Linked DNA regions of Homo sapiens. The protein of the gene in region 3 interacts with the protein of the main gene of each other region in a biochemical or structural test. Each region holds a gene or a part of one and is shown on either strand. Other genes may lie near its edges.

Region 1 (7,027 bases), on a different chromosome or scaffold from region 3:
AATCAGTGATCCATTTATAATTTTAAGAACGATCGTTACCTCATTTGAAAAGAAGAGCATTTATCAACATAAAAGTTAAGGAAGAAATACCCAAAGCTTAAAAGAATCACTAAATTATACTGTATCATAATGTGGTGTGTTTGGCATTCAGATGATTCTGTACATTTTTCACAGTGTGACAAGTGCACATACTGAGAAGGTGTCACTGTGCTTTGCCTGGCATTTAGCTGACTGTGATGTACATGTGTGTATACCCAATGCACACACCAGGAGTAGCTATGTGCATCACTGGATAGGGGATTGGTGTCTTCTATTTTAGAATGTAACTTTTGAATCCATGTTATTTTTAAAATTAGTTTTAAAATTAATCTATTTAAAATTTCATTCTAATCAAATGCAGAACCTATGAATCACCTCTGTGGAATATAGTCTGCTCTAGAAATGTTAAATAGCCATGGGGTATTTGACATAATAGAACAGAGCTTTGTCTTCATGGAATGGGCATTCCATAAACATTCACTAGTATATCTTAAATATTTTTATTAAGTATTTATACTTTAAATATTTTATGAATATTTTACTAAATATATTTTCTTTTGGTGAATATTTCTTTAAATATTTTATTTTTATAAATATTTATATCTTATTTTATCTCATATCTAAAAATATCTTAAGTATTTTATATCTATAAATAGTCCTCAAGAACACATTAGTAGAAAATGCAAAGTTAGTAAGACCGTGTCCTGTTGTTTATTTTTGCCTGCAAAATACTAAGTTACTCTTTTTCTTGTTCACAGGCTAAAAGGTCAGATTCCTGAAATTAAACAGACTTTGGAAATTCTAAAATACATGCAGAAGAAAAAAGTAAGTGCATTTTTGTTTGTAAATATGAGCAAGCTAGGATATGTCAGCAGAAACTCGTCTTCTTTGACTCTTTGGTCACTGATATTTGATCTGTGCTGTGGAATCCAGTCTGCCTTCTTAAGCACATACACTAATGTTATGATGTGCTTCTGTAGCAAATGTGGCTTTGTGGCCTTCCCCCAAAAGTCAAGTTTAATTCTAGGGCCCACACTTGGATTACTTTGCTTATCTTTAGTGCTTGTGAAACTTAAATGCAATTTGAAATTGTTTTAGGTGTACAAAGAAAATGTCTTATTCTGTGCTAGCAGCATCTAGGGTTTTTTCTTTGTTGTTGTCTTTCTCCCTAAGAATAAGGAGTTAGTCCAAGATTTATAGAGCTGGAACGAATCTTAGAGATCATCTGTTACAGGTTCTCATTTCATAGTTGAGGAAATGGTTATGGAGAGGTTATACTCGACCATTGTCTATGTAGTTAGTTACTGGCAGAACTAAATTTGAGAGTCTTCTAAGTCTTAATCCAGTATTCATTAAATAAAAGCAGGTTGTAAAGATTAAATCTCATAAGCATATTGTATTTAAAAGATTGTGTGTATGCTTATGATTTTGCTTGACTGGTAGAATAACTATTTCTAGTACATTTTAATATGTGGTGAACTTTGTAAGACTTCAGCAACTGATTGATTGGGCATGAAGCACCAATGAAATAATAGAAGAATGGCTAATTCTTACAATAATGCCTTCTCTGTATGTCAGGCACTCGGGGGTGTGTGTGTGTCTGTGTATACTCAGTGCTTACCACTGACTTCATAGGTGTAGGGACTGTTGTAATCCTCATTTTACAGATGAAGAACCTGAGATATAGAAGTTAAGTGAGATGCCAGATTTGTACAGCTAGTGAGTAGCTGAGCCAGAGTCCATACCCAGCCACCTGGGTCTAGCATTCATTTCTTTTACCACTACACTTAGCCTGCATGATGGTACTGTTTTAAATGTCCTAGGTTCAACTGTGCAATCTCTCCTTTATAACCTTGGTATCAAACTGGCCTGTTTATGGTACTGTCATTTTTTTTTTTGTTTTGAAGGAGTCCACCAACTCAATGGAGACCAGATTCTTGCTGGCAGATAACCTGTATTGCAAAGCTTCAGTTCCTCCTACCGATAAAGTGTGTCTGTGGTTGGGGGTAAGTAAATGTTATAGCCACAGCTGATATATTTGTAAACCAGTGTGTTTTCTGTAGCAAACACACTGGTTTTGCTAGTATTTGCTAGTATTTTAGTAGTATTGCTCGAGATATGTAAAGTGTTCATCTCCTTTTGATTGTGGAAGGGACAAAGGGACAGAGTCCAAGTGGTTCATATTAGAAATTGACTAGAATCAGAAGTGCGATGAAGATCGCAGTAAAAACATACTGAAGTCTCTCCCAATCAAGATAAAACTGATCAAACAAACCCTGCTTCTCTTCCAGTTAGTGCTTTATCTCTCTTAAATATAATGGAGGAAGAGCAATAGAAGTAAAATAGAAGGTACTGCTGAACTTTAGATAAACGCTTCTTCCCATAAGAGTTTAATAATTCTAGAAAGATCCCTCTCAATTTAAGGGGAAAAAGAGTATTGCAAAAAGTTTGAGGTTAGAGTTTATTTTTTAAAACCATGTATTTCAGTTTTAGATGATTTCATTGAGCTTATCTGTGATTTACCTATTTTGCTCTTCTCAGTCCTCTGACTATCCAGCTACCTGTCTGTGGATCTTGTTACCTCAGGCAAGTTCTCATACAAAGTAGCAAGCCAAGTGTACTTCTACCAGCTGTCCTACGGGGAGGATTTCCCCTAGCTGCTGTCCTGTAGGATCACTCTGGAGAGGCACTCTAGATTAGCCCAAGGAGGTTTGCTCAAAGTTTGTACAACATTTATATTTCACTCTACAATCTGCATTTCAGTATTTATCTTTTATAATTTATCACTAAGGCTTTTTAAAAAATAACTTTGAAGCATAGCAACTACACCTGAGTGTCCAAGGATTCAATGATTTTCTGTATTCAGTTTTTTTGTAGAAATTGCATGACCTTTTGATTCACAAATTCAAGTGTTACTTTATTTCAGGAAAGATAATTTCTGTTGTGTACTTGAATGTGACTTTTGCCCCATTTCTTTTATTATCTTTTGGGAATAATAAATATGCATATGTTCGATCTCCTTTATCTGTTTTCAGTACCTATCATGTTCTCTGTTTTCAGTTATTCGATGTGTTTCATTCTGTGTGATTTCCTCTGGCTGCTTCCCCATGACTTTGTGTTTTCCCTGGTAGTTATTCTGTTTTGTTGCTTTTACTCTGTCTTTTGTAACTGTTCTTCTGTTTCTCTTTCTCTTCATTTTCTTTGCTGAGCTCTTCTTGCTCTTTTCATGTTTTTCTTCTTTCATTCCTCTTGAATGTTTAAATCCTCATTTCACCACTCATAGACTGGCACTTCCCACAATCTTCTCCATCTCAGTAAATGGCAGAATCTTTTGCCTGGTTGCTCAGAACAAAAATCTTTGAGTCTTCTTTGACTCTTCTTTATTTTATATCTCTCAACCAGTCCTTCAGCAAACCCCACTGGTTCCTTCTTCTGAATAGATTGAGAAGCCAACTATCTCTCACTTCCTTACTGCTGTTACCATGGTCCAGGCCACCTTTGTCTCTTGCCAGGACTGTGGGAATACTGTCTATTAGTTTTTAGGGATGCCATAATAAAATTACCACAAACTGGGTGGCTTTAACAACTGAAATGGACTGTCTCATGGTTCTGGAGGCCAGAAGTCCGTGATGAGCCCCAGAATCAGGGTCGATTCCTTCTGAGAGCTGTGAGGGAAAATCTGTTCTAGCCTCCTCTCTTAGCTTTGGTGTTCGCGGACAGTCTTTGGCATGTTGATGTGTAGAAGCATCACTGTGATCTCCGCCTTCATCTTCACATGTGTGCATGCATGTGTCCAAATTTCTCCTTTTGAAAGACCTTATCTCCAAATAAAGTCACATTCTGAGCTACTGGGGGTTAGTAGTCCAACTTATTTTTTGTTGGGGAGACAGAATTCAATCCATAATACCTTACTTCCACGTAAGGTCACATTCGCTAGTATAAGGGGTTAAAACTTAAATGTATCTTTTTTGGGGACACTGTTTAACCCATAATAATACCCTAATTCACTGTCTTGCTTCTGCCCTTGCTGGAATTCCTAAAGTCTTTCCAGCACAGTGGTCAGATTAATCCTTTGAAATCTCAATCAGGTCATTCCATTATTCTGCCCAAAATCTTTGAATGGTTTCTTATCACATTCCGAGGAAAAGTCCAAGTTCTTTGAGTGGCTGACAAGTTCCTATACATCCTGGTACTCTCTGTTACTTCTCTCTTTTTTTTTTTTTCTGAGACAGAGTCTCACTCTGTTGCCCAGGCTGGAGTACAGTGTTGTGATCTCAGCTCACTGCAACCTCTGTCTCCCGGGCTCAAGCGATTCTTGTGCCTCAGCTTCCTGAATAGCTGGGATCACAGGCACGTGCTACCATGCCCAGCTAAATTTTTTGGTAGAGACGGGGTTTTGCCATTTTGGCCAGGTTGATCTCGAACTCCTGGCCTCGGGTGATCTGCCCACCTTGGCCTCCCAAAGTGCTGGGATTACAGGTATGAGCCACCGTGTCCAGTCTCTCTGTTCTTCTCTTACTTCCTCGCTTGGCCACACTTGGACTTCTTGCCAGACTTAGAGCATGCTGGGAATGGCCCTGCCTCAGAACCTTTATTCTAGCTCTTTCTTCTGCTTAAGCTGCCAGAGTAGTGCTTTTAAAACATGTCAGATGATTCCGCTTTTCTGCTCAAGACCCCAGTGGTTTCCCTGTCACCAAGGGTGGAATACAGAGGTGTCCTTTCCACAGGACAGCCCTACTCCCTCTCAGCACTCATTTATGCTCATTCTTTTGCTCACTCTGCTGTAGCCATGGTGGCCCCCTAACTGTTCCTGGAACCTGCCAGTGTGGCCCCACATTTCTACTTCTGTGTTCTTCACACTCAATCCTTTGAGTTCTCAGTTCTGATTGTTAGCTCCCCCAGGGACCTGCTATGACTTGTCTGTCAGCATTTCTTGGTTTCACTTGTACTGTTTATCTTGTATTGTTTTCCTTCAAAGTACTTAGCACTCCCTGATATGTTATTGATTGGTGTATTTACCAGTTCCCTGACACATAATAAGTGCTCAGTAAAAATTTTTCTTGGGTGAATGACATTTTTGTTAGTTTTTCATCAGAGTTCATACATGCTAATGGTTCAAAGAGCAAATAGAAAGCAGCAGGCTACTGCTCCATCCCCAGATGCACCCACTTTTAATCATGTCTGTACATCTGTATGTACCTAAATATTTGGAATTTTGTTAATTGTTTTTACAAAAATGGGATATATATTGTATATTGTTCAGCACAGATGTCTTTATTTGTGAGTAGACACAGAGTTTGCCTCCTTGGTTTTATTGGCTTACTATTCTGTGGTAGGGCTATGTGATAATATTCCCAAGTCAAGGGGTGTTTGGATTGTTTTAAAATTTCTTGTACAGTGAGCGGTGCTGTAGTAAATATTTTTGCACATATAGACTTGTATACAAAGGCATATTTTTGTATGCTGCTTTGAAATGGAATTGTTGTGTCTAAGAGTATGCACATTTAACATGTTGATGGATACTATCAAATTGCTCTCCAGAAAAGACTACCAATTTTCATTTTCTCCAACCGTATATAAAAATACCCTTTTATTAACAGTCTCACCCACATTTTTAGATTTTTGCTAGTTTTATAGGTGAAAATAGTATCATCTTATAGGTTTTTGTATGACAAAATGCTCATTTGTATTTCCTCTTCTGTTTCCCTTCCTGACTATGTTGTTGCTCCATTTTTCTGTTGGATTCTTTTTCTTTTTTTTTTTGATAGACATTTAGGTCTTCTTTATATATTATGTATTTCGGATGCACAGTCTTCTCTTAATATTGCAGATACTTTTTCTCATCTGTCACTTGTCTTTTGTGGTAGCTCTTAGAAGTTTTAAATTTTAATGTAATCGACTTTATCAGATATTTATAATTTTATCTTAACAGTGTACTCCTTTCACCAAATCTGCAAACATTTTTTTCCTAATATTTATATACTTAAATTTTTTAGAAAACTTTTTTGTTAAGGATAACATGGAAAGATAAGCAACTCCTCAGGATAATGGGTGAGTGACTTCCAAAAAGAGGGCCTCCCAATGGCCAGTAAACATATGAAAAGTTGTCCCACTTCATTAGTAAACAGGGAAATGCAAATTAAAAGCACAATGTGATCTCACTGTGTACCCACCGGAATGGTAGGGTGATACTAAGTGATGGTAGGACATGGAATAGTGAGAACACTGATTTACTGTTGGTGAAGGTGTAAATGGACACAGCCACTGGGGAAACTGGCAGTATCTGTTAAAGCAGAACATATGCATTGCCTATGCCATAGCAGTTCCATGCCTGTCTCTATCTCTTTCTGCCTCTTGCTGTATATAAGAAATGTATAAATATTAACTAAAAGAAAGGTATAAGAATGTTCATATCAACTCTGTAGTAACCAAAACCTGGAAACAACCCAAATGTTCATCATAGTCGAATGGATGAGTAAATCATGATGTGTTCAGACTGTGGAATACTATACAGTACAGAGGAGGAATGAACTGCTGCTACACGCCAGCACTGCAAGGGTGATTTTCACAAACAAGGTTGAGTGAAAGAAACTGCATAGCAAATTACCACAAACTCAGAGGCTTAAAACAATATCCATTATCTCCTAGCTGTATAGGTCAGAAATCCAGATGGGCTTGGCTGGGTCCTCTGTGCAGGGTCCCACAAAGCCAGAATTAAATTGTCAACAGGGCTGTATTCCTTACTAGCATCTCTGGGGGAGAATTAGATTTCAGCCTTATTCACGTTATTGGCAAAATCCGGTTCTCTGTGGTTGAGGTCCCTGTTTCCTTGCTGCCTGTCGTCCAGGAGTCAGTCTCAGCTTCTAGAGGCCACCTGCAATCCTTGGCTCATGGTCCTTTCTGTTTTCAAAGCAGTGATATGACTAGTCTTTCTTACACTTTAGATCTTTCAAACTTCTCATTCTGCTGCCAGCCAGAAAAAGTTCTC
Region 2 (7,027 bases), on a different chromosome or scaffold from region 3:
GAGTTCGAGACCAGCCCGACCAACATGGAGAAACCCTGTCTCTACTAAAAATACAAAATTAGCCGGGTGTGGTGGCATGCACCTGTAATCGCAGCTACTCGGGAGGCTGAGGAGGAGAATCGCTTGAACCTGGGAGATGGAGGTTGTAGTGAGCCGAGATCGCACCATTGCACTCCAGCCTGGGCAACAAGAGTGAAACTCCATCTCGAAAAAAAAAAACTCCAAATTGCCCAAACAGTGGCTGCTACTCTGCAAGAACAATTCTTCCCTCTCTGAGATAAGAATCATCCTTAATCAATTGTTTCTGAAACCAGCTGAACTCCAGCTGAGCACCCTTGTTAAAGCCCTGTACGACATTTCACCCTCCTTCCCCAAGTTAAAAGGCTCTTTCAGAGACTTCTTATGCCTGGCATTTCTGAAAAGGGACTTCTGCAAACAGTTCTCTGTTTTGTTTTCTAAGTGAGTATTTTAGATAGTAAATTCTATAATAGGTCAAGAAGGACAAGATTTTCTAAATTGAGTAATTAGGGAAGATTAGAAAAAGCAGGCCTTGAAATGAGAGCCTTAAATGATTTGTATGATTCAGAAAGACTGTGAGATGGGGATGGAAGGAGCAAATACCCAAGAAGATAGAAATATACCATGCAAAGTTCTCTGTGACCAGACAAATTAACAGCCAAGAGTGAGAGCAAAATAAAGGCACTTTCAGACATACTAAGGTTCAAAGTTTACCACCTGTATTACATTTCTGAAAGAAATAAGTATTACAGCAAAACAAAAATACAGGAAAAAATAACATCTGGGATGCAAGAAACCATAATGAACAAAGAAAACAAAAATCTTTATAGTTAAATCTAAATAACTGCTGATGTACAATGTTTTTAGATTTTTTTTCTTTTGGTAGAGACAGAGTCTTGCTATGTTGCCCAGGCTAATCATGAACTCCTGGCCTCAAATAAGCCTCCTGCCTCAGCCTTCCAAGTAGCTGGGATTTATAGCAACCACACCTGGCTAATTTAAAATTTATTTCGTAGAGACACTATGTTGCCCAGGCTGGTCTTGAACTCCTGGCCTCAAGTGATCTTCCTGCCTTGGCCTCCCAAAGTGCTGGGATCACTGGAGTGAGACTAGACATATGTGCAAATTTTGATAACAAAGTATGTTTACAGGCAATGGGATGGACTAAAACAGATTCATCTCTTTGCCTCTAATAGTGGCAATGGTGAGTACTGAGCTTGGAGAGGCAGGCTGGGGCTTCACTGTGAACAGCCTTACAAATGTGCATAGGTCTTCTTTGTTATTAAAAAGAATTTCCTCTGAATACCTCCTCAAACTAGTATATTTTTTCTTCCTATTTGTTTTTGTTTTTTTTTTTGAGACGGAGTTTCCCTCTTGTTGCCCAGGCTGGAGTGCAATGGCACGATCTCGGCTCACCGCAACCTCCGCCTCCCAGTTCAAGCGATTCTCCTGCCTAAGCCTCCTGAGTAGCTGGAAATACAGGCATGTGCCGCCACGCCCGGCTAATTTTGTATTTTTAGTAGAGACAGGGTTTCTCCATGTTGGTCAGGCTGGTCTCGAACTCCTGACCTCAGGTAATCCACCCGCCTCAGCCTCCCAAAGTGCTGGGATTACAGGCGTGAGCCACGGTGCCTAGCCTTCTTCCTTTCATTGGTCAATTTCATACTGCCTCCCTCCCTTGTTGTTTGTTTACATAAAGCTTCTATCACCTCACCCTATGGCAAATGTTCGCTTGAACTCCTAATTTTGAACTTATAATGATCTTTCTCAGGCTGTATCCTCAAAATCCGTGTGTGTGTAACATTGCTGACAACTCATCGTCTTGAAACTTTCCTTTTGCTTGACTTTTACAACCAGATTTCCTTCTACTTCCTCTGTCTCTGGGTTTCTCATTTTAGTCCTCTTCCTAAATATAAACATACCTCAAAGTTATGTTCTCAATTCTCCTCTCTTCTCTCTCTATAAGTTCTCTTTCCCCCTTGGTTAATTCGTCCATATTTCTGGGCCTACCCCTTTCTCAAGCTGAATTCAATATTTCCCAGTGCCATCTGGATATCCTCATGTACATCATATTCAATACATTAAAATGATGGCTGGGTGCAATGGCTCATGCCTGTAATCCCAGTCCTTTGGGAGGCCAAGGCAGGCAGATCGCTTGAGCCCAGGAGTTGGAGATCAGCCTGGGCAACGTGGTGAAACCTGGTCTCTACAAAAGATAAAAAAAATTAGCCAGGCGTGGTGGTATGTGCCTGTAGTTCCAGCTACTCAGAAGGCTGAAGTGGGAGGATCACTTGACCCTGGGAGTTCGAGTCTGCAGTGAGTGTAATTGGGCCACTGCACTCCAGCCTGGGCAACAGAGCAAGAACCTGTCTCAAAAGAAGAAAAAAATTAGGCCAGGCGTGATGGCTCACGCCTATAATTCCAACACTTTGGGAGGCTGAGGTGGGTGGATCACTTGAGGTCAGGAGTTCAAAACCAGCCTGGCCAACATGGCGAAACCCCATCTGTATTAAAAATACAAAAATTAGCCAGGTGTGGTGGTGTACATTTGTAAACTTAGCTACTTGGGAAGCTGAGGTTGCAGTGAGTTGAGACTGCACCACTGCATTCCAGCCTGGGTGATGGAGAAAGACACTGTCTCAAAAAAAAAAAAGTAAAATTAGTACATTAAAATGAAACATCACCTTTTCTCTTTTTCTCTGAAGCATGATCTTTCCAGTTCTATTGTTAGCATCACATAACTATTCTCCTAGTATCTAGACAAAAAACCTGAGCGGTTTCTCAAACCTGTCTTTCCTTTGTCTACCAAATATAGCCATCAAGTCCTATCAATTTTCCTAATACTTCTTTTCCTTTTCTTTTTATTCTTACCAGTTCCAACCTAGATCAAGTTCTCATTACTTGCCTAGAATATTGCTAAAGTATCCAGTTTACACCCACTATCTTGTTTCAAAGCCTTTCATGTCTAAGATCCCAATCATCTTTCTAGCCCATATCCTGGAATACCTTACACTTTAATTAAACTGCAATTCGTTGTGTTACCCAAACAGGTTCTGCCTGTTTTCCTTATTAACTTTCACCCTCTTCATACCGTTCCCTTCATTTGGGACCATGACTTTCAGTGAGTCAATAATCTTTCAGCCAGGCGCAGTCGCTCACCCCTGTAATCCTAGCACTGTGGGAGGCTGAGGCAGGTGGATCACCTGAGGTCAGGAGTTCCAGAACAGCCTGGTCAACATGTCAAAACCCTGTCTCTACTAAAAATACAAAAAAATTAGCCAGGTGTGGTGGCACACACCTGTAATCCCAGCTACTCGGTAGGCTGAGGCAGGAGAATTGATTGAACCCAAGAGATGGAGGTTGCAGTGAGCCGAGATTGCCCCACTGGACTCCAGCCTGGGCAACAGGGAGATTCCGTCTCAAAAAAAAAAAAATCTTTTTTCTAACTATTAAGCAACATCTTTAGAGAAGTAAGAGGATTAAAAATGATGATATAATTTCCTCTCATGTATTTGTTTTGTCTCATAAACCCATATGAAGAAGTGAAACCTCATTAAATACAAAGTGATTGGAGAACTTAAACAGTAATTGTTTTCCCTTTGGTTTGTCTCATTACTACTGGTTTATGGAATGACTACAAAGATTGTATATCTCAGACAAACTCTTCAGTGGTAACATTCCTATATCACACTATTATGTTAGCAACTTTAAATAAAAAGGTTACAAAGTATTTTCTGTATCAATGAAGATAATCTTTCCTCCTGGGTAGCCACCAGCTCCTGGAAGTTGAGCTGTCACTAGGAAGCAATTAAAAATTTATATTAATAGGAGTGAATAAACTTTGTACACATGACTATATAAATACACATGGAATCTGCTGTTGCAACTCTTTAGTACATTTTGCAAAGAGTCATGATCCTTTCGTTTCTAAACAACATGTTATATTTTCATATTACTTAACCAGTGTGAAATTATAAGTATTCTGCCAGCATAGTTGTTATTCAACAAATAATTTCACTATCTTTCACAATGGAAGATATTCGTGAAAGTTAGTTCTCCCAAAGAATGGAAATAAAATTTAAATATTACTAATTTTCTTTCTTTTTCTTTTCTTTTCTTTTTTTTTTTTTTTTGAGACGAGTCTAGCTCTGTCGTCAGGTTGGAGTGCAGTGGCGCAATCTCAGCTCACTGCAATCTCCGCCTCCCGGGTTCAAGCAATTCTTCTGCCTCAGCCTCCCAAGTAGCTGGGACTACAGGCAGGCACTGCCACACCCAGCTAATTTTTATACTTTTAGTAGAGATGGGGTTTCACCATGTTGGCCAGGATGGTCTTGATCTCCTGACCTCGTGATCTGCCCACCTCGGCCTCCCAAAGTGCTGGGATTACAGGCTTGAGCCACCGCGCCCAACCTACTAACTTTCTTTCTACAAGAAATAGTCACAAATATGGCCGGGCATGGTGGCTCATGCCTGTAATCCCAGCACTTTGGGAGGCCAAGGTGGGTGGATCATTTGAGGTCAAGGGTTCAAGACCAGCATGACCAACATGGTAAAACCCTGTCTCTACTAAAAATACAAAAATTAGCTGGGTGTGGTGGTGCATGCCTGTAATCCCAGCTACTCTGGAGGCTGAGGCAGGAGAATTGCTTGAACCTGGGAGGCGGAGGTTGCAGTGAGCTGAGATCGTGCCACTGCAGTCCAGCCTGGGTGATAGATCAAGACTCCATCTCAAAAAAAAAAAAAAAAAAAGAAAGAAAGAAAGAAAGAAAGAAAAAAGAAAAAAAAGAAAGAAATAGTCACAAATAGGCCGAGTGGGCGGATCATGAGGTCAGGAGTTTGAGACCAGCCTCATCAACATGGTGAAACCCCATCTCTACTGAAAATACAAAAAACAAAAATTAGCCGGGCATGGTCGTGAGTGCCTGTAATCCCAGCTACTCAGGAGACTGAGGCAGGAGAATCGCTTGAACCTGGGAGGCGGAGGTTGCAGTGAGCTGAGATCGCGCCACTGCACTCTAACCTGGGTGACACAGCGAGACTCCGTCTCAAAAAAAAAAAGTCACAAATATAATTTATGCTATATAACTAATATGTTACCTTTAAATTAATGTATGTCAAATTTTAAAAATGCATTTACTTTTTTTTTCGAGACAGGTCTCACTTTGTCGCCCAGGCTGGAGTACAGTGGCACGATCTCGGCCCACGGCAACCTCTGCCTCCCGGGTTCAAGTGATTCTCTGACCTCAGCCTCCCCAGTAGCTGGGATTACAGGCATGTTCAACCAGGCCCAGCTAACTTTTGTATTTTTTAGTAGAGACAGGGTTTCACCATGTTTACCAGGCTGGTCTCAAACTCCTGACTTCAGGAGATCCTCCTGCCTTGGCCTCCCAAAGTGCTGGGATTACAGGTGTGAGCCACCACGCTAGACTGCAATTACTTTTTATGTAGTAGTAGTTAACACTAAGGAGCTACTTTATACCAGGTACATACATTATTTCATTTACTTTTCAAAACAATCCTAACATTTGGCACTGTCATTATTTCAATTTTATTGGTGGGGGAAATTAGAGAAGTAGAGCAACTTGCCCAAGGTCACACAGCTACTAACGATAGAACCAGGATTGAAGTCCGGCATTTTGATTCCAGAACTCCTTTCTTTTTTTTTTTTTTTTTTTTTTTGAGACGAGTCTTGCTCTGTTGCCCAGGCTGGAGTGCAGTGGCGCGATATCGGCTCACTGCAAGCTCCGCCTCCCGGGTTCACGCCATTCTCCTGCCTCAGCCTCCCCAGCAGCTGGGACTACAGGCGCCCGCCACCATGCCCGGCTAATTTTTTTGTATTTTTAGTAGAGACCGGGTTTCACCGTGTTAGCCAGGATGGTCTGGATCTCCTGACCTTGTGATCCGCCCGCCTCGGCCTCCCAAAGTGCTGGGATTACAGGCGTGAGCCACCGGGCCCGGCCAGAACTCCTTTCTTAACCACTTTGCCAAGTTCCTTCTCCATAGCTCAAAGAAATGCACAGTAGTGTATTTGTGGAAAAGGAGATATCTTTCGTTATTTTGTTTAAAACAATTTTGTTTTTAAGTCTCTCTTAGGGCCAATTTTATGCCATGGAAAGTGAAAGATTCTAGGACTCAATAGATTTTGTGTCACTCTTCTAAAAAAGATATAGAAAAGATGGAATGGGAAAAACTGAGACAGTGGACTCCTCACCAACACATTCATACACCCATTCAACTTCTCTCTATTTCTACTCAGGTGTTCATAGTGCAGCACATACATCACCTCAAGGATCACACATTCAAAGACCAGCTGTATAACCACGGGCAGTTTACTTAATCTGCCTGTGTTTTAGTTTCCTTGCAAGTATGTTCAGATATGAGATTATTTAGAGTATCAGGCACATAGTAGATGTTTGATAAGTAATAGCCATGATTATTATTGTTATTGTTGTTATATATCCTTACCACAGAGGGTATGAGAAAGCTGGGTTTTTCCAGTACGAAATTCTGTGAAATACAGAAAAAAATGATTTTAAAAATGCATAATTTCCAGATATTTTCATAAAGAATAAAACATGGCTTTAGAATATTACTGTTTTCTTTTTCTTTTCCAACTGGCAAATCTTACTTATAAAGTATCTCGGATGTTATTTTTTATTTTTTTTTTGAGACAGAGTCTTGCTCTCACTCAGGCTGGAGTGCAGTGGCACGATCTCAGCTCACTGCAACCTTCACCTCCCGGGTTCAAGCGATTCTCCTGACTCAGCCTCCTGAGTAGCTGGGATTACAGGTGCCTGCCACCACGCCCGGCTAGTTTTTGTATTTTAAGTAGAGATGGGGTTTCACCATATTGGCCAGGCTGGTCTCAAACTCCTGAACTCAGGTGATCCGCCCACCTCAGCCTCCCAAAGTGCTGGGATTACAGGTGTGAGCCACCACGCCCGGCCTTATTTGTTTAATATAAATTAATTTAAATCAAGTTTTCCTTAGTAACAGTCATATAAATGAA
Region 3 (7,027 bases):
AACAACTGTAAAATGATATGTTTGAATGATCTTGTAATTGATTATCCTTAACTTTTTTATTTTATTCTTTAATAGATTGCTATGAAGAACTGTAACACACCTTTATTAAGAGCTTACTATGGTTCCTTGGAAGACAAGAGGTCTTTGTCACTCAACCGTTAATAAAAAATAAGATTATTCTCTTCTTCCTGATCATAACTGATTTTAAAGACTCTAATTGTATTCTATGGAACAATTACTTGAGTTTTGGTTAACAGAATCTTTAACCTATTCATCAAAATTCTAATTGTACATTTCACATTATAAGTAGAATAAATAGGGTAACAACACATTGATTATTTGTGTTAAAGGACAATTAGAATAGCATGAAAACTTGAAATCCAAGCACAATTTTAATATTTCCTTTTAAAGCCATTCTCCATGGAAAGACTTGCAAATAATAAAAATATATTTCTTTATTTTGTTAAATCATGAAGGGTCTAATGTAACAAAAAATAGTAGATATAAATATTGAATACAATCTAAATGCTGTTTAATTTTAACAGTATTAAATTATTAGCAGTAGTTGTGGACTGAAGAACTACTGGTTCAATCCAGACCTTGGTTCTGAACTGAAAAGATTTGTGATACTTAAGAACTATTATTCTATTAATTGAAGATTTATCCCGTGTGAGGCCACACATTGAAGTTAATAATAAAACTGGCTTAATTACAAATAAAATATAGAATGGAATGAAGGAAAAGTTGAGGAAAATATGTGTTACCAGATTTCTGGTTTGCATAATCACTGAACTTTACCACTGGTAATTGTGAGGTTCCTGTTACGCTGTCTACATATGTGTTTAGTGTCTCTTGCCTCTACCGAAGGCAGGGATCATATGTTATTCTTCTCTGAATCTCTTCACCTAGCACAGTGCTTGATACATGGTGTACATTGATGTTTATTGAGTGAATGAGCATGAAGCCACAATTTTTATGACAGTTCTTTAGAGATGTATTTTGTACCCACAGGCACATCAGTATATGTAATTTGTGAGCTCTATTAGCAGATGTAGAATTGTTTTTGGGGTCCTGATGCTGTTTTAGACTAGTCCTGACTGATGAAACAGTTTAAATATGAAATAGTCACAGCTCTAACTTAAGTAAATTTAAATATTTGTTGCTTAATTAGTTATTTCAAAATAACTTTCAACAAAAATTTGCTATCATCAATTGTGATTCAAATTATAAATTAAAATAACTCTTTGACTTATTGCCTATAATGTTTTTCTTTTGGCCTTAATATTAGGTTTGGAATCATACTTGAAAAGATTAAAACAGTAATTAATGATGATGCAAGATACATGAAAGGATGCCTAAACATGAGGACTCAGAAGTGCTATGCAGTGAGGTCTAACATAAATGAATTTCTTGACATAGCAAGAAGAACATACACAGAGATTGTAGATGACATAGCAGGTAATTTCTTTATTTGATAATGTTTTTTGTAGGGATAAAACAGCCTTTTCAGGACATGCTGTCCTTTTTTGCTGCTGATGACTAGCCATACATATTTTAAATTTATTTTTCGTTACCAAAACATAAGGTTAGCATGTAGTGCCATTTAAGGAAACAGCATATGTGGCAGCCTTCATACTAAACTCCTTTTGAAAACCTTCCATTGCCAAGTGCAATAGCTCATGCCTATAATCCCAGCACTTTGGGAGGCCAAGGAGGGCTGATAGCTTGAGTCCAGGAGTTTGAGGCTAGCCTTGGCAACATAGCTAGTCTTTTGTAGAGACAAGACGTTGTCTCTACAAAAACTGAGAAAATTTGCCAGGCATGGTGATGTATGCCTGTAGTCCCAGCTACTCCGGAGGCTGAGGTAGGAGGATCACTTGGATCACTTGAGCCCAGGAGGTCGAGACTGCAGTAAGTTATGATTGTGCCACTGTGCTCAGCCTGGGCGACAGAGTGAGATCTGTCTTGAAAAAAAAAAAAAATTATTAGAGTTTGAAAGAGCAACAAGACCTCCTATTTATGTATAAAATAAGAATTTAAAAACCATGTGACTCTTTAAAACAGAGTGATTTTTCTCATTAAAATTTATTCATTTTGTTTTGTTTTTGTTTTTCTTGTTTCTGGTCACCAGGAATGATATCACAACTTGGAGAAAAATATAGTCTACCTTTAAGGACAAGTTTTAGCTCTGCTCGAGGATTTTTCATCCAGATGACTACAGATTGTATAGCCCTACCTAGTGATCAACTTCCTTCAGAATTTATTAAGGTTCATTTTAGAGTGGTTAGGAAATTAGTGTTTCTGATTTTATAGAATTACATCTACATATTTTTGGGACTTCTTGAGTTTTGCAAGCCAAATTTCTGAATGTTCTGTATCTTCTCCTATTCCTACCCACCCACCTAACTAATGTACTAATCTAAGAGTGATTTAGATGCTTTTGCAGAAATACCAAACTCAGTGTTTTCCACAGTTCTGGGAGCTTGGTGTAAGAAAAAAAGGAAAATGAAGAAAGAACATCCAAAAGCTGTTTATGATAAAAGAAATTAGGAAAATACCACACCATTTGCCTGTTAAAGGTTTAAAAAGTCCTGAAGTAAATAAATCTACTTAACTTTTAAAAATCTAATATTTCCAAACCTTTGTACCACAGGAATAATTTTTCCTATATAGCTCCTTTACAATATACCAGTTTGGGAAAGTCTAACCCACTCTAATCTTTGTTCTATCTGCTTAGGGGGTACTTTTTGATAAGAACAAACCATTTAGCTTTCAGGCTTTTAGAGCTTGAGTACGATTAGAGATTGAGTTGAGGTTCAGATATAGGACAAGGGCTGCGACAGGGGTCAGAGATGGAGTGAGGATCACTGATGTCCATCATGCGTGTTACTTGGTAATAAGATGTAGTGTTTTTAACATTTTAAGACCTATCAGAGTAGTCATCCCAGATGAACTAGGTCAAAATATCCTGCTTTTTAAAAATGAATGTATGGGTTAAAAAATTTGGCTTTATCCTTTGAAGTGATCTACCTCTTACATTTCACAAATATTATTTAGAACTTTCTTTGTGATACCATATCTCAAAGAGTAAAATGATTAACCTAAATACCCATATTTCTGTTGTTTAAAATCTTACATTTCATAGTAGTGTGCATTTATCTTGACATTTGTTTTTTAATCTCCAAGCAGATTTCTAAAGTGAAAAATTCTTACAGCTTTACATCAGCAGATTTAATTAAAATGAATGAAAGATGCCAAGAATCTTTGAGAGAAATCTATCACATGACTTATATGTAAGAGCATTTGAAGTATTTGAATATTGAATTAAATTGGTTTAATTTGAGAAACTGTTACAATTGTATTAGTTTAATTTTTATCTAATTACAGACAATTGTAGAATTATGCATGTTAGCAAAGGAAGTCTGTCTTTGTGATTAGAATCACTGAGCCTCACAGAAGCTTCGGGGAAGATCTAATTGCAAACAAATACTTTTATAATTGATATTTCTGTAATGTGCATTCTACCATGATGTAGAACTTGGCACATCAGGGGCTTACCTGGGCTTCGTTCAGTTTATTATTTTCCTATGGTCTGTAAGTCCTCAGCTTCTTATACCTTGATATTAATAATTCAATAGCAATATCACAATAGTGTCAGTTCTTTTGCTGGTCATGAAATAGTAGCAATACAGCCAGAAAGAAGAAGTAGAAGATTTAGAACACTTATTAGGCTGAAGTAATAAAGAGAAAGGTTGGGCTTTCAAGACAATTTCAAGGCATGTACCACCAACATTTTAATATATAGTAAGTTTTGGGTACATATTTATCTTTGCAAGAGAAAAACTTTTTGCACTATATCACAGTATAACTCTGCCTTATAAAAACTTAAATAATTATATTATTCAGATATTGTGTCTGTGTGCATGTGTGTGAGTGAGAGAACAAGAACGAGAGAGAAAGAAAAAATGGATGAGAGAGAAAATGCATATAGTTTTTGTGTTGAACTTAACATTTGCAAATTCACAAAGTGATTAGCAAATGGGATCTTTCCAAGTATAATGAGGGCTTGATTTGACCTATATCAAATATTCTTAATAATAAAAACTTATTTTATTAATATCATATAAAAGCAGTTATTTCAAAAATGTTATGTTAATACACAAGAAGATAGATTCTTTGCCACTAAGTAGCTGTGATCTTGAGCAAAAACTTCAATTTCCTCATCTCTAAAATGAGACAGATGAACAATAGGCTTTATCTATAGTGTATAACTCAGATGTGAATATTATTTTACTTCAGGCAATGAATTTAATATTATTTTACGATTACAATGTATGTCCCTTTTGAAAAAACATTATTACATGTCTTACCAAACGTGTTTTCAGGATAGTGTGCAAACTGCTTAGTGAGATTTATGAACATATTCATTGCTTATATAAACTATCTGACACTGTGTCAATGCTGGATATGCTACTGTCATTTGCTCATGCCTGCACTCTTTCTGACTATGGTAAGTTGCTTTCTTTGGAATAAACATATTGCATAGTTAAATTTGTATTCGATTCAAACAATTTGATATAATAGTTATGACATTTAAAATTTTTAACTTGAAATAGAGTCTCTTGCCTCTGGTCCTAGACTAAGACACAAAATAAAGAAAGTGAGATTACCCTTAAAATTTTTTTTGAAGTAAAAATTATTCTCTCAGAAATTGGCAAACCAAAAAGAAAAAATTGCAAGAAACTAAAGATTCCCCAAATAAGAAAGACTGTAAGAGCTGTCTCCTTGGTAAAAATGACAGTGATCTAAATTTATAAAGTTCAAATCTGAATACTTATTAGAAGCAGCGTGATAAACGTTAATAGAGAGAAATGCATCTCCAGAGTGAGCATTTTAATCCACTAGCTCTTTAGATGTGAACATACCAAAATTAGGAATTATGTAATTTATTTTTATATCCCAAGTCTATAAAAAGGCCATGAATATAAATGTTAAGTAATTTTCTCATGTTAAATGAATACTTCGAGTTAGTGCTTTGACATTTCTTATCTAACTTACCAGTAATAACCATACTCCAGTATGCAAATTTACTGGACTAGTATGTGATAATTATGGTTGAATAATTGTAGACTTCATTACATTAAAAACATTGAAATTTCTAATGTAAATCAGCAGTAAAATTTCTAAAATGTTATGTTAATTTACTTTTATGGGATGTATCTTAAGATTTTTTCATATTTCTTATGGAAATATTAACTTTTTCTATTGGTATTTTATAGGCCAAAACTTTTCAAACTTTTATATCTCCTTTGCATCAAAACTCTACTTTAGGGGTCAGATATTCCAATGGTAGTTTTGTTTTTAAACTATTAAGAGATTTAGTCTTGCTTCATTTTAGTTTGAGAAGGATCATTCTGAAACTCCATATCTATAAATAATGAATTTTTGAAAATACTTAAAATTTTTTTTCTAACCTCACTTTTATGATGAATGTTTTCAAGTTTATGCATTTTAGATAAAGGTATGGAACATTTTGGTTTTCACATATGCTTTCACCCTCTTCCTCCTCCCCCCACTTCAGGTGGTATCCATAGAGACCTGATCCTTATTTATTTCTATAGATTAGCAGATTATTTGTGTTGATCTTCTCTATTCTCATTCTCTGAAATTTCCTTTTATACAAAATTTCTCCATGGGCTTAGAAAGAATTATTTTTATATTTGATTTTATTCTATAATCATACCTCAACTTATGAGCTAGGTGTTTGAAACCAGCCTGGGCAACATAGCTAGACCTCATTTCTAAAAAAAAAAAAAAAAAAAAAAAAAATCGGTGAGAAGTGGTGGCAGGTGCCTGTACTCCCAGCTTCTTGAAAGGCTGAGGCAGGCAGGAGGATGGCTTGAGCCCAGGAGTTTGAGGCTGCAATAAGCTATGATTTTGCCACCGTATTCCAGCCTGGGTGATAGACCAAGACCCTGTCTCTAATAAATACATAAATAAATGCTAAGCGTACCAAATTTGAAATAATATTAAAGTAGGGAAGTAGTGTTTAAGGTAGAGTAAGTAAATATGCAACTCTGTATTACCAGTAACCAACTATGATTTTTAAAGTACAATCAATGAGTACTTGGTTCTTTTTTATTTTTATTTTTATTTTTTTTTGAGACAGAGACTCACTTTGTCAGCCAGGCTGGAGTGCAGTGGCACAATCTCAGCTCACTGCAGTCTTCACCTCCCAGGCTCAAGAGATCCTCCTATCTCAACCCCACAAGTAGCTGGGACTACAGGCATGAGCCATTACACCTGGCTAATTTTTTTTTTTTTTTTGTAGAGATAGGGTTTGACCATGTTGCCTAGGCTGGTCTTGAACTCCTGAGCTCAAGCAATCAAGCAATCTGCCCTCCTCCGCCTCCCAAATGCTGGGATTACCAGCATGAGCCATCACGCCTGGTCTGCTTGGTTCTTTTTAATCTACAAAAAGCTGAAAATTTTATAAACTATTTTGGAGCTCAGGACAGTGGTAAAGAACTAAATTCTAGAGTTCTCTAGAAGTGAATAAAAGTTGTGATAGTGATTAGAGTGTGTCCATTATAATTTAGAAGAATTTGGGTGGGGATTTGGGATAATATAGTACCTTAATGTTATTATTCCAAATTGACCAGTGTGAAAATCACTAAGATATAGACAATACATACACACTACAAAATCTTTAGACACAAATATATTAATCTTTAAAAACCATTCTATTTTTTTTCTTAAGTTCGACCAGAATTTACTGATACTTTAGCAATCAAACAGGGATGGCATCCTATTCTTGAAAAAATATCTGCGGAAAAACCTATTGCCAACAATACCTATGTTACAGAAGGGAGTAATTTTTTGATCATAACTGGACCAAACATGAGTGGAAAATCCACATATTTAAAACAGATTGCTCTTTGTCAGATTATGGCCCAGATTGGTAAGTTATGGCTTTATTTATAATGACCAGTTTTACACTCTTTTCAGAATGCTTTGTGCCTAATTT
Region 4 (7,465 bases), on a different chromosome or scaffold from region 3:
CATAGGAATCTAAAATATTATTACATGCTTCCTGGAAATTGCTCCTCTCATCGGAAGTCACACGCTTCTGAAGAGTAGCATCAAATAAACTAAAACCATTATCTTCACTAAATTCCTTAATATCCTCACCTGATAATTCCACAAATAATTTTTCTTGCTTTAAAAACATTTTCACTCCTTCCTGAATGCAAAACAAGAGAGTGTCCCAGTTCTGAAATTCAATCAGAGTTTTGGCTGGCTCCATGCACACATCATACTCACAGAATTGGCACTGCACATTAATTACATATATGCCATAGAGTTCTGGGGTAGACCGGTGCCGAAGACTTGAATTCATTTGCCTACTGGTGGGACCATTCTTTGGCTTGCATATAATACTTTCTTTCCTTAATAAAAAGTCAATGAGTTTATGTAGCTTTGTCCTTAAAACTAGTCTTTTGTTCACAAACAAAAACTGCATATTCTTGTTGTAATGTGCTTCAGAGCTGATATAGCCACTAAGCTCAAACTCTTTATATTTAAAACTTATTTCTCTTAGCTTTTGGGACTTTCCCAATCCATAAATTTGACAAAATCGGGAACATACGTCTTTGGTTTTAGGGAGCTGAAGAACCATGGAACCAGAAACATCATTTCTCAAAGAGAAAGAAATGGAAGGGTGCATGAGTGAGAGAGCTTCTATTCTCTGCCTAACCTTCTCAAACTCCAGTCTAGGGTCCATGCATTTCCTCCTTACAGGAAGCTGGTAAAATAGGTTATACACTGTTACAGTAGTCCCAGCGCTTGCTCTAGTCACATCAGCTTCACAAGCTTTCAGGGCTTTTCCACTCTGAAACAGTTTCACAAAAGTTTTCATTGTCCTGTTTTTCTTGGACGAAATTTCCACAGCACTGGCCATGTCAGCAATATTTGCCAAGGCCTCTCCTCGGAAACCATAAAACCTTGGATTCTCCAAGTCCTGTACCGAGTGGCATTTACTGGTGAAATAACGATTTCCCACTTTCTCTACATCATCACTCCCCATCCCAAATCCATTGTCTATCACTTGAACTTGGAAGGTTTCCATATTCACCCTGACAGCCACACATTTTGCTTCAGCATCAATACTGTTGAGGGCAAGTTCCTCAACACATTGGCCCAAGGAGCTTATGGCCAAACCAGAACGCAATTTGGCTTGTACTTCAACTGACAAGCACTTGATCATGGTAGGTAGAAAGATGGTGAGAATGCCAGGCACTGGTTTCCTTCTCTGACTGGAAATAATTGCCTATTGGAGAAAAAAACCACACACGCACATAATCAAAGCTTTAGCATTACACAGCATTATGAAGAAATAGCACTTGAGGTAAATGAAATCACTCTTATTAAACCAAATTGTGAAACAAAGCAAAACAAAGTTATACCGCTGATCTCTAGGCACAGCTCATGCTTGGTGCAATGGATTAACATCCAAAAAAAATTCATAATTTCATAATTTTCAATGCTCCTTTCTAAATCCCACATGTCCTAAAGTGAAATCATAATTACACTTGAAGTTGACCAGTAAACACAGTATTCGAAATTCTAACCACTTCACCAAAAACAGATGCCTAAATTAAATACAGCTAAGGAACATTAGCTAGAAATTATTCATGACAAAAATGTCCAAGCTAGTTTCATAACATTTATACATTACACAATAACCATGACTTTTAGAAAAATACTTATAATGAATTGCTAAGACATTGTAATAAGGTGAAGCAATAGGAAGAAATTTTAAGAATCAAATTGTATCAAAGAGAGATTGGGGGCATTAAGAGGTTATTATTATTATGGTTAAGTATAGTCACCTCAGGGAAAGAGGCTGGGAATGGGAAAAGATAAAGCAGGAAAATTCCTTTTCATATAAACCTTTCTTTGCCATTTGATTGTTAAATCCTGTTCATGTATTACTCTGATGTTTTTAGAAAGTCGTTATTATTCTTTTTTGAAACAGTCTCACTCTGTCACCCAGGCTGGAGTGCAATGACACAATCTCGGCTCACTGCAGCCTGCACCTCCCGGGCTCAAGCAATCCTCCAGCCTTAGCCTCCCGAGTAGCTGGGATTACAGGCGCTCGCCACCATGCCTGGCTAATTTTTGTCTCTTATGTAGAGATGGGGTTTCACCATGTTAACCAGCCTGGTCTCGAACTCCTGAACTCAAGTGATCCTCCCGCCTTGGCCTCCCAAAGTGCTGGGATTACAGGTGTGAACCACCGCGCCCGGCCAGAAGGTCATTATTAATATTCTTTTGGTCTTTACAGATGGGCATAAACTACCTTGGTAATAATAATGATGGCATGGGGCTGCCTGAACTTGATTTTAAGTTTTCCTGCAAGTGAAAACACAAAAACAAAAAACAAAACAAAAAAAACCAAACCCTAAGATTCCAGTGCCATTAAAGGTCTCCCCTTCTTCTCCATCAGTGAGAGCCACGTGGGTGGGCCCCTGCAGGCGGTGGGGCCGGTTTTCCAAACTCGGGACAAATCAGGGCTCTTAACTGCAGAATTTCTGCTGCTTTCTAAGCTAATGCACTAAGCAGCCGGCAGCAACTGACGGGTAAACGTTTAACAAGTATTCCGATTAATGTAAACCCAATGATTTCCTGATGACGCCTCCCAGCGCCTGGGACTGACGGGACGCACGGGCCTGGATCCAGGGCACGGGGGCCTGGGAGGGCCGCGCGGGCCGAGTCCGGGGCAGCGCTGCCTTCCCGCCAGGCCCAGCCCCTCCCTGGCCAGCCCCGTCCTTGTCCCCAAACTGGGCCCGCCCGGCCGCCAGGCCGCCGGGCCTCCGGGGCCCTCGCGCATCCGGCTCCGAAAGCTGCGCGCAGCCATCATCAGGGCCCTTCTGGTGTTAGAAGAGACCCCGGCATCATCTTTTCGTCGCGTGCTTCCCCCAGAGTCACCTGGAGTCCCGCTTAACAAATTCTCCGACACCAACCGCCTCGGACGCCGACGCGCGCACCTTGGATCTTGAGGCTCGTGCGTGCCCACGAGCATGCGCTTCGGAGGGGGCGCGCCAGGCCGCGAGACACCAGTGCGCATGCGCACCAGTTGTTCCAGCCAAGGATCCGCATCCCAGGGTTCAGTGAACCGGTACCTACAGTCTCAATCCTTATTCCCTTTTGGCATGGTGTTAAAGACTATGTCGTAGCTTTTACTTTTGTTTTTATTTTTTTTTCCCGTGTTTTCCCTTTCCTTTTTTTTCTCATTTTCACCTTTGCTCTTAACTACCGTTTAATTCAATATATATTTTATGTGTTTACTTATTGTCTTCTCTCCCTAGAATGTAAGCTATGTGAAGGTAAGGAGTTTATATATTTTGTTTACTGCTGTATCCCAGTTACCAAGAACAGTGCCTGGCCTATGGTAGGCACCGAATGAATGAATAATTCCAGAGCCTGCCATCTTAGAATTATGGCATTTGGAGCTGGAAAAGGCTGAGAAACTGTCTAACTCAACTCTTTTTTTTTTTTTTTTTTTTTTTGAGACGGAGTTTAGCTCTTGTTGCCCAGGCTGGAATTCAGTGGTGCGATCTCAGCTTACTGCAACCTCCGCCTCCAGGGTTCAAGTGATTCTCCTGCCTCAGCCTCCCGAGTAGCTAGGATTACAGGCATGCGCCACCACACTCGGCTAATTTTGTATTTTTAGTAGAGACGGGGGTTTCTCCATGTTGGTCAGGCTGGTCTCGAACTCCGGACCTCAGGTGATCTGCCCGCCTCGGCCTCCCAAAGTGTTGGGATTACAGGCGTGAGCCACCGCACCCGGCCTTTGCTCAACTCTTAATTTACAGATGACAACACCAAGACTCTCTTCACTGACTTGAATCTCCCCAGTGCCACCACAGCTTTTAGTTATAAAAATAACTAAAGGAGAGCAGAACTCTGAGAATGCTGTGAGAATAAAGTGTTTTGGAATTGTTAACCAGTCCTTAGTTTTTGCTTTCTATCTCATTTTCATTGAGAATTTAAAGTGGAATTTATAACGAATTTGTCAGACCTGGTAAGCATTTGATATATGCTAGTTTAGTGACTAACCAAACCCAACCAACCAGTCTTCTAGGGCTGATTAAGCAAAATCCTGATAACTGTTTATGATTATTACTATACCTAGGGCTGCCATAACAAAATACCTCAGACTGAGTAGCTTAAGCAGCAGAAGTCTATTTCCTCTCAGTTCTAGAGACTGGAAGTCTGAGATCAAGGTGTTGGCAGCAACGATTTCTCCTGAGGCCTCTCTCCTTGGCTTGTAGATGGCCATTTTCACAGGGTCTTTGATTTTTGCACACGTGTCTATAGCCAATATGTTCTCTTATAAGAACACCAGTCAGATTGGATTAGGGCCCACCCTCACAGCCTCATTTAATCTTAATCACCTCTTTAAAGGCCCTATGTCCAAATACAGTCACTTTCTGAGGTACTGGGGACTGAGACTTTAACATATGAATTTGGTGGGACACAGTTCAGCCCATAACATAACTTTATGTGAATTCCTTACCCAGAGAAAAGAAACAACAGCAGAAGTAATTCATCCAAACATAAGGTGAACAGAGCTAACAAATTGAACTTGTGGTATTTGTTCTTATTAGGCATGGAATTTCTTGAAGAACATTTCATAGAAACCATTTAAAGAAATGACTCAGACTTTTTTTCTTTCAGACCTCTTTAAATTACCTCAAAATCCTCTTCCTACAAATGTTTACTGAATAAAGACCTCTCATTTCGCCCAAAAGGAAGTTCACTGAAGATTTTTTAAAAGTACTCTAAGCAGAAGGTTCTAACGTTTTTATTGATTAGATTTGTGTACAGTGGTAATCCTTCCATCATACAGGTAATATATAATAACATTCAAAAATCTGACATTAAAATAACTTATTGACTAATGCTAATATTAACACACAATAGTTCTATCTCTATTAATAATAAAAACCAAACCACTGAGTTTATCTTAGAAAACTTAAATTCAGGCCATTATTTTACAATTTGGAAGTCTGAGTAATCCAACTTCAAGATGACTTTTTCATTGTTGAAGTTTGCTTTGTCGATGTGTGATTTAGGACTTCCTCTTGTTTCAAGCCATTCCTGCATATGACGCACCTTGGAGATGGGACCTTGCAATTGTCCTTGCACTGTGCCCCGGTCAGTGTTCTGGACCCAGCCTACCAATCCCAGCTTTTTACCCTCAGCCTAAGGGGGGTAAAAAGAGAGAGAGATCCAGTGAGATTGAAGAAAACAAGGTAAGACTACAATCTGTTGCCAGAATCTTGGCCTAGAATCAAGCCACTGAAACTAATTTGATATTGCCCAGAACAGTCAAAAGAAAGACAGCAAGAAGGATCTCATTGCTTATCTTCACATGAAGTATTGGCCACTTGACTGCATGTCTTTCTTCTACCCTATAAAACCCAGGCACTAGAATTTTTCACTGTGTAGTCAATTTGGTTAAGTATCAAAGACTTAAGTCCAAAACAGATGCTTTTGAAATGATCCCCTAAGGCTGATTGTTTTTAGAATACTGGACTGTATCTTGCTCATTTTCCCTTCCCCTAATCAAGAATCTATTGGGTATGTTAAATGGAAAAAACATGAAGTTATCTGATCCTTCCCTTTGCCTTTAACCAGGACCACACGTAAACAAATCCAGATGAATTAGTGTTCATTATATCTTTAAAGATCATTAGAAAGTATTTCACAATTTCCTGGGCAACTCATCCCGTTGTTCTTACTGTAGTGAAACTGTCTAACCCAACATCTTTATGTTGTAGCCAAAGCCCACTTTATTATCTTCCTAGAAAAGGAAAGCAGCTGGTGTTCAGCCTCTCAACAGCAAACCATGAGACTACATAACTATCAGGTTTTCACTTCACTTTCTTCTCTTCTGTCTAAATAATCACAATGCCTTTAGGCTTATAAAAAGCATCTAATCATTACAGTGTCTTATCCTTTTTAATGTTCTTTCCTTTTATTAAACTGTGGCAAGACTGAATGTTTAGGAAAGGTAGCAATGTTTTGGAGGTAATTTTATTTTTGTATAAATTTATGATTAGAATATTAAGTCATTGATTGTTAAAGTAATTATCTAAATAGAAGATGTTGGATTACAAAAGAAAATGGGAGTTAACATGATTGCATGTCAAAATGTGGGAAATTGCTGGAGTTGGCCAAAGAAAACGTTATGCATAGCAACAAAATGTTTGATGAGGAATTTAAGTATCCATCAAATCAAAGACATGTTCAAAGCAAAGACATGTTTGCTTAATGAACAAAACAGACTCCAGCCAAATAAATAACCATTTGAGGGATACAAAGGAAATTAAGGAATGAAGAAAAATAGAAGATGCCTACCTGATGCGCTGCTAAGTGCCAAAGAAGATACCATAAAAGAAGAATGCTGAGAATGAATTTTGAGTAAGACTCCGCATCCAACTGACAGGGCAGTATAACAACTGCCCTCTTCTGCTTCAAATTAACCCAGGGGAGCTGACTATCTCCAGTTCTTAAGAGTTATCTTATATGGTAAATAGCTGTAAGAATGTGCAGTTTTAAACAGGAGGTTGTCACAGTCAAATAAATCTTTAAAAATTTGCAATGTGATTTATCTGAACTCTTTTTTTTTTTTTTTTTTTTTTTTTGAGACGGAGTCTCGCTCTGTCGCCCAGACTGGAGTGCAGTGGCGTGATCTCAGCTCACTGCAAGCTCCGCCTCCCAGGTTTATGCCATTCTCCTGCCTCAGCCTCCCCAGTAGCTGGGACCACAGGCGCCCGCAACCACTCCCGGCTAATTTTTTTGTATTTTTAGTAGAGATGGGGTTTCACTGTGTTAGCCAGGATGGTCTCGATCTCCTGACCTCATGATCCGCCTGCCTCGGCCTCCCAAAGTGCTGGGATTACAGGCATGAGCCACTGCACCTGGCCTTATCTGAACTCTTGAGAGTTGAACAGAACACTCCAAAATTTGACCAGTGTTGAGAATGGGCGTTTCCTACTGGTTTCATTTGTGTGCTCAACTCTGTTCTTATTTTTTTAATGATGACATAATGTTATTGACTCATGTTCAGTTTTGAATATCTATTGCACCAACAGGGTTTTTCTCCCCTAAGAAAATTCCAAAAAGTGAATTCTACCTCATAACCATATTTTTGCTTAAACAATCATCTGACAACATTTCAAGGACTGTAATCACCACCTCTAGTTGCAATCTAAAAAGAAACTCTCTTCAAATCAATAATCAAGATTTCCACCTTAGGATACTAGAAAAAGAAGAGCAAACTGAATTCAAAATGAGCAGAAAGAAGGAAATAAAGATTAGAGCAGAAATTAATGGAAAGCAGAAGAATAGAGAAAATCAATAAAACAAAAGTTGCTTCTTTGACAGGATCAACAAAATTGACAACCTTTAGCTAGACTGATAAAGAAAAACGGATGAAAGCCTCAAATTACTAAAA

What was found.
Region 1: the proteins of MSH4 (region 3) and VBP1 form a complex in vitro, tested with the Homo sapiens proteins (one study listed by BioGRID).
Region 2: the proteins of MSH4 (region 3) and DMC1 form a complex in vitro, tested with the Homo sapiens proteins (one study listed by BioGRID).
Region 4: the proteins of MSH4 (region 3) and MLH3 form a complex in vitro, tested with the Homo sapiens proteins (2 studies listed by BioGRID).

The regions. Positions count from the first base shown.
Region 1 is NC_000023.11:155,226,438-155,233,464, forward strand, and holds part of VBP1 (prefoldin subunit 3), read left to right. Parts: intron 1-797; coding exon 798-864; intron 865-1,946; coding exon 1,947-2,045; intron 2,046-7,027. UniProt on the Homo sapiens protein: Binds specifically to cytosolic chaperonin (c-CPN) and transfers target proteins to it. Binds to nascent polypeptide chain and promotes folding in an environment in which there are many competing pathways for nonnative proteins.
Region 2 is NC_000022.11:38,546,183-38,553,209, forward strand, and holds part of DMC1 (meiotic recombination protein DMC1/LIM15 homolog), read right to left. Parts: intron 6,526-7,027; coding exon 6,484-6,525; intron 3,816-6,483; coding exon 3,743-3,815; intron 1-3,742. UniProt on the Homo sapiens protein: Participates in meiotic recombination, specifically in homologous strand assimilation, which is required for the resolution of meiotic double-strand breaks.
Region 3 is NC_000001.11:75,876,861-75,883,887, forward strand, and holds part of MSH4 (mutS protein homolog 4), read left to right. Parts: intron 1-75; coding exon 76-140; intron 141-1,288; coding exon 1,289-1,458; intron 1,459-2,131; coding exon 2,132-2,268; intron 2,269-3,189; coding exon 3,190-3,293; intron 3,294-4,385; coding exon 4,386-4,510; intron 4,511-6,760; coding exon 6,761-6,961; intron 6,962-7,027. UniProt on the Homo sapiens protein: Involved in meiotic recombination. Required for reciprocal recombination and proper segregation of homologous chromosomes at meiosis.
Region 4 is NC_000014.9:75,048,452-75,055,916, forward strand, and holds the start of MLH3 (DNA mismatch repair protein Mlh3), read right to left. Parts: upstream 3,017-7,465; 5' UTR 2,929-3,016; intron 1,268-2,928; 5' UTR 1,205-1,267; coding exon 1-1,204. Other genes in the region: ACYP1 (acylphosphatase-1 isoform c precursor), read right to left, coding at 4,993-5,208. UniProt on the Homo sapiens protein: Probably involved in the repair of mismatches in DNA.